Linked DNA regions of Homo sapiens: region 2 is linked to region 1. Evidence: fine-mapped expression QTL. A gene starts in region 1. The other region holds a variant in brackets. All regions are shown on one strand. Distances are between the middles of the regions. Region 1 holds the start of PARP11 (poly(ADP-ribose) polymerase family member 11). Region 2 overlaps PARP11 (poly(ADP-ribose) polymerase family member 11).

Evidence for each region.
Region 2: its variant is fine-mapped to the expression of PARP11 in whole blood (TOPMed, PIP above 0.99).

Annotation. Positions count from the first base shown.
Region 1 is chr12:3,871,924-3,874,845 of GRCh38, reverse strand. It overlaps PARP11 (poly(ADP-ribose) polymerase family member 11), which reads left to right and starts at 1,447. Exons shown (of 8, transcript NM_020367.6): 1 at 1,447-1,634. The coding sequence starts at 1,617. PARP11-AS1 (PARP11 antisense RNA 1) reads right to left here. Exons shown (of 2, transcript NR_183432.1): 1 at 2,890-2,922. RefSeq lists enhancers at 1-477, 478-998 and a silencer at 1,670-1,779.
Region 2 is chr12:3,843,128-3,846,049 of GRCh38, reverse strand. All of the region lies in intron 1 of PARP11 (poly(ADP-ribose) polymerase family member 11), which reads left to right. It also overlaps the pseudogene OTUD4P1. Among named protein-coding and RNA genes, the nearest start is that of PARP11-AS1, 26 kb to the left of the region's middle. The variant A/G (reference allele first, on the strand shown) is at 1,298.

The DNA.
Region 1 (2,922 bases):
CTTCAAAGTAGTGAGGAAAGAATATTCACTAAATGACATGGGGGCAACTGGTCAACCATTTGGCAAAAATAATCTCTTAGTAAACTATTTTATTTCCAGGAATTAATTCCAAGAAGTAAATGGACAAATGTGAAGAAATGCCTGTTGAAGGATTTTTTTGGGATAGTGAAAAATAGAAAACCACTCAAACGTCTATTCAGTAGATTATTTCAAATGTGTGTGTCTATTTGTGTGTACGTAGTATACGCATAAGTTATGGAATGCCATGAGTCTACTTTAAAATATGGCCGGGTGCAAGATGGCTCACACCTGTAATCCCAGCACTTTGGGAGGCCAAGGCAGGTGGATCACCTGGGGTCAGGAGTTCGAGACTGGCCTGGCCAACATGGCGAAAACCTGTCTCTACTAAAAATACAAAAATTCGCGGGACGTGGTGGCGCACATCTGTAATCCCAGCTACTCAGGAGCCTGAGGCACGGGAATCGCTTGAACTCGGGAGGCGGAGGTTGCAGTGAGCCAAAATGGCGCCACTGCGCTCCAGCCTGGGCGACAGAGCGAGGTTCTGCCTAAATAAATAAATAAAATGATGAAACAGATTTAAACTTAATGGAATGGAAGGATAGCCACATAATCTTTAAAGTGAAAAAAAAATCAGGTTCTAAATCTATAGGTATTCTTTGATTACATTTTTTTCAATGTGTAGAGGCATAGAAAAGTCCAGAAGGATCTATAATGAGCTGTTTAATTTTCATTTCCTATGGGGTAGATCCTTTGTTGCATGGAAGATTATTTCACTCTGTTAGCTCTCTTTACATCAGTAGGAATACATCCTCATGGTTTTAAACATCTTGAGGGAGCTTTCCTGACACTCTACTCTAGGTAAATATGCTCGCATAGCACTCTCTATTCACCATATTACCTATAAATCATATTGCACTTTTTAACTTTTCTAAACTACTTTTTGCTTTCTTTTCTAGATTATAAAATCTTGAGGGCAGGGATAGTATGTAAAGGTTCCCTTGTGAGCAAATAACCGTCACTTATTGAACTCTGTGTGCCAAATACTGTGCTAAATGCTTTCAATAATCTCACTCATAGGGAGATATTACTACCATCTCCATTTTGAGGATGAAGATATTGAAAGATTATGAAGTTTCTCCCAAATGCCATTGCCAGGCCTGTGTGACTCTTGGTCGTTACACGGTGATCAATAAAAATTTGTTTCATAGGAAAGAAATACAGCCAGCCGTGGCTTTAAGATCACTGGGTGATACAGTTGGACCAGAAACCCTTTAAACTCCTTCGTCAGACACAGACTCGCAAGCCCCGCCCAGGACGACCGCCCGCGCGCGTATGGATAAGCGTGCAGGGGCGGGGCGAGCTTGTAGGAGTGGGGCGGAGACAGATCTGACTGGCCAACGTCGGGCGGAAGTCGGGAGGTTGGGTGGTCTGTAAACGCTGGCTTGTGACAGGGAGGGGGAGGAGGAAGGCCTTCGTAAAGGTTGCATCTCCGTCCCTTCGCTCCCGGGGACCCGCGGGAAAAAAAAAAATCCAACACCCAGGCCCCGCGGCTAGCCCCTTCCCACAGGCTCTCTCCGCTCGATTTTGTCACCGTTATGTGGGAAGCGAATCCAGTGAGTAGCCGGGCGGGACGGGGCGGGCCCAGGGGGCGGGGTTGATGAGAGAGGGGCGGGAGGGGGTCACCGGAACTGCTTCCCCGCGCTCGCTTCAGTCTGGGTGTTGAGTTCCGGGACCGGAGTTCCCGGGCCTTTTGGCTTCTGTAGTCTGTACCTTTTTAAGCAGTGGAAGTGCCTGGGTGGATTCTCCAATGCTTTATTGTTTTCTTGTTACAATTATTTATTTTACTTCCCGTGATGTTTCAGCCTCATCCCTTCACCATTTGTTGTTGTTGTTGTTTTTGAGACGGAGTCTCGCACTGTTGTCCAGGCTGGAGTGCAGTGGCGTGATCTCGGCCCACCGCAACCTCCGTCTCCCGGGTTAAAGCGATTGTCGTGCCTCAGCCTCCCGACTGCCTTCACTGTTTTTTGAAACTTTGTGTTTTGCTTTCTAATTGGAGTAACTGGCCTTGGAACCTGTAGTCAGTCATTTGCCTCAGGTTTACCTGCCAGTCCCACCAGTCTAAAGCAAGGGAATTGGGACCCCCTTGTCTTGAATGGGCCTAAGAGGAGCCATCAGTTCTCCTTTTCCCTTCTTGGTGGACAGTCGTTTAAAACTTGGAGTATGGACTGTATGTTCTTAGATGTTTTCGTTCGGTGGACAAAGTGATCTGGAGCATTTCAACTGCAAGTCTGCCTTCTTCCTTGGCTGACTCTGGTATTTTCATTATGACTTCATGTGTCTTTGTCTACTTTGCTTTTATACATTTATTTATTTAAAGTGCAACGTAGGGGCCGAAAACTTTAGTACCTTTCCTCACCACCCATTGTAAGGATCACAGCCACCACTCCTTAAAACAGAAGATAGGTTAACAAGGTAAAAGCAGAGCAAATCTAATCAAAGTTTTACACCACCAGGCACTTCAGAGACCAGGGAGATCTCTATTTTTATGCGTAGGACCCATGAAGAATAGACAACTGTGTAAAAATGTGACTGGACAAAGGATATACTCTAATGTTAATAAACTGAGGAAGGAAGCCCAGCAAGGTCTGTTTGTTCAGATTCTTCTTGGCCTCTCTGTGTATCATTTCTTCCTCCTACGGAGGAGGAAGGTCCCTTCTGGAATGAGGGTCTTAGCGACCTACTATCAGGCAAGGTAGATTAGAGAATTTCTTTATGGCCAGTTCCTATAGACAATGGCAGGGAAAGCTTAATAGTTCCAGTTTTTATGGCTTGCTTTGTAGGAGAGGGATCCTAGTTTCTATCACTCACCTTGGGGAAGAATTCTGGTTTCTGTGACTCACT
Region 2 (2,922 bases), 29 kb after region 1:
TACAAGTAACATCACAAATGATCACATCTTCACATGCTCTTAAAGTATTATTTGTACTCAGTGTAAGGCTATTATCGTTTTTCATACACAAAATTTTCAGCTCTGTAACACAATGCAATTTTTAATCCATTCAAGTAAGTTCAACCCCAAAGTTGCTGCTTCCCAGCATTAAGACATGCACCCACTCCTCTTCTAAGATTTTCTAAAACTTGTATTTCGGGGAGAAAGACCTCTTTTAAAAAATAATCCCAATTAGTGGGAGAGTAAATGGCTGACACTAGTAGCAAAACCTTAGTTATTTGAAAATAACATATTGGAAATGAGACATTATTAGGATTCTAAACAAAAACAATAGCATTTAGACATAAAGTAGGAAGCAAAACACAGTACACAGAAATAGTGTAGCCAAATACGTATTCTCTTCAGCTACACTAGAGTGGACCTTGCTTAGTATCCTTAAGTAAAAGACAAAACATTTACCTCATCTAAAAATGAAGGGTAAAACAAAAGAGGCCAAAATAAATATTGCTAGTTTCTAGGATGGCTGAATGTTTTCTAAACCAGAAATGGTTAGAAAGGAACTTTATTGCACCAAGTCAATCATAAGCAAGTTTGCAGTTCACAGGCATTTTAATTCAACCTTGAGTCACAAAGGAAACAACACACTGCAAGAATACAGTCTGCATTAAATAAGATATATCGGCATTGTGGTCTGGGAAACCTACTCTTGCCAGGACAAGGCAGGGTCTGAGCTTAGGTCTGCCATGAAAATGAATTTGTGGGTTATCAGTAAACAGTATGAGGACTACACAGATGCCAGCATCCTGCTGCCAAGGAGACATGGGGCAAGAGTTGAAGATTTATTTGAGAGGAAATGAAGAGACATACACAACACCAAAGGGAAAAGGGGGCTGGAATAAAGTTCAGCCAAAGCACCTAACACAAAAAACAGGTGAGCTTTGGTCAGTCTGTTCTTCAAAATATGTATGATCATAATATGGTGAAGTTTCATAATTTCCAACTCAAAAATGCAAATGATCCTCAGTTCTATACTTTTGCCTCTATTCTCTTATAAAGAAATATGTCAACATACAGTATGACATAAACAGTTAAAATGAAGGACAAAAGCTTGCTTAGCCTTAGTTTGACCTCAGCATAAGGCAAAATCCCGTGGACTAATTAATACATTTAAAAACAAACTTAAAGGATAAAAGCGAAACCAACCTTCATGCAAAGATTAATTTTAAAACTATCAAAAGTCAGTTCTTTTATTCCGGAGGTCACTGAGAAAAGTACC[A/G]TCTGCTAAAATTCTCTTTCAAGCACTTCTTCCATCATATCCTAGAGGTGAGATATGGGAAACAGAAAGCAAATCAGTGTTTCCTTCAGGAGCTATATATTCTGTTACTCAATTGAGGTAAGACAAAGTGACAATGAAGATATGAATAGTATTTCCTTCCAATTTTTAAACATTTTCAGAAGCTGAGATAAAACCCCAGTCAATAAAATGCAGCAACAACTTATTTTGGACTCCTGAGATCAAACACATTGAACTTTCAAATCTGGTGTTTCTATCAAAATGTGATTTTCATTAAAATCAGGTAAGCTAGTCCTACAAAAAAAAGCATAAGCTGAAAGTGGAGGACCCTCTATCTTCTCATTCCTTAACTGAGCCACCAGTGTTAAGAAAGAAATGGCTTAAGCGGTACCTTCAACAACTATTCTAGTTTAGAAGGTGACAACAAATTCCTTTCAATAGATTCTCTCAAAAAATGTTTTCCACACAACCATCCCAGTCTTTACAATTTTTTACCTAGCACCATCATAATAAAATGTTATCTTTCAAAGTGCTCTCTAAAATCCTGTTACATTATCTAAATGCTAATCACTACTCAAATCAGCAGTTACACGGACGTTAGGTAATTAAAACAGCACAGAGGTAAATAACCATTATTACAGTACAGTGGCGATTCACTGAGCCCAGCTGGCATCCAAACATTCCCATAGGTTATCAGAGAACCCAGAAAACTCATCTGTTTCAGTTTGTCAAATTCAAGTGAATTGTATTTTCTTAAGTAATTTGCTTTACAAAAAAAGAAAGTCACCGCATCTGGTTTTGGCTAGGTGTATTACACATGGTATGCAAAGAGAAATTACTACTATGTTATTTGCATAGCACTCAAACTTCCTGATCAGAAGATAATCTCAACATAATAAAAGAGTGGATTTTCACATTGGTATGTACAAATAAGGAATATAAGCTACAGTTATTTTTACAAAATAACACAGATGAATGAATACTGTGTTAATTCAGAGTTCAATCTCCAAATGAGGACAGAGTACAACATGCAAAGGGAACCTCTAGTGAATACTGCAAAGACTGGAAGAAAGCAGAATGGAAGATGTTACCTACCTAAGGGTAACAAGCTATAAAATACAAAGCAAAACCATTTTCTAGCAGCATCCTCTAGAAAAGAACTAGAAGTCACAATCATATTATCTTCTATACGATAGTTCCAGCCCTGACAAGGAGAACATGCAAGTGTAAAGTGAAAGTGATACATAACCAATGGTGCAAGGGGAAAAAAAATACACACACAGTAACTCTAGAAACCTGTCAAGCTAAAAATTTTTAACATTTCTTCTCACAAAATATTTAGAATCTGTCAGTGCATTAGTGTTAAAGTGGCATTTAGAAAACTTCTGCAGTTCTGACTGATGCAGATTATTTTCAAAATGCGTAGCATCTACATTTCTTTCGAGTAGGCACCATGATATTTACACCAGTGCTAAGAATTCTTGGTGGAAACAGCCATTTCATTGGATTTCCTACTATACTTCTGTGCAATCTCAACAAATACCAAAATTCAAAAATATACCTTATGAATATTAAAAGAACTATATACAACATTGCTAAGACACAGT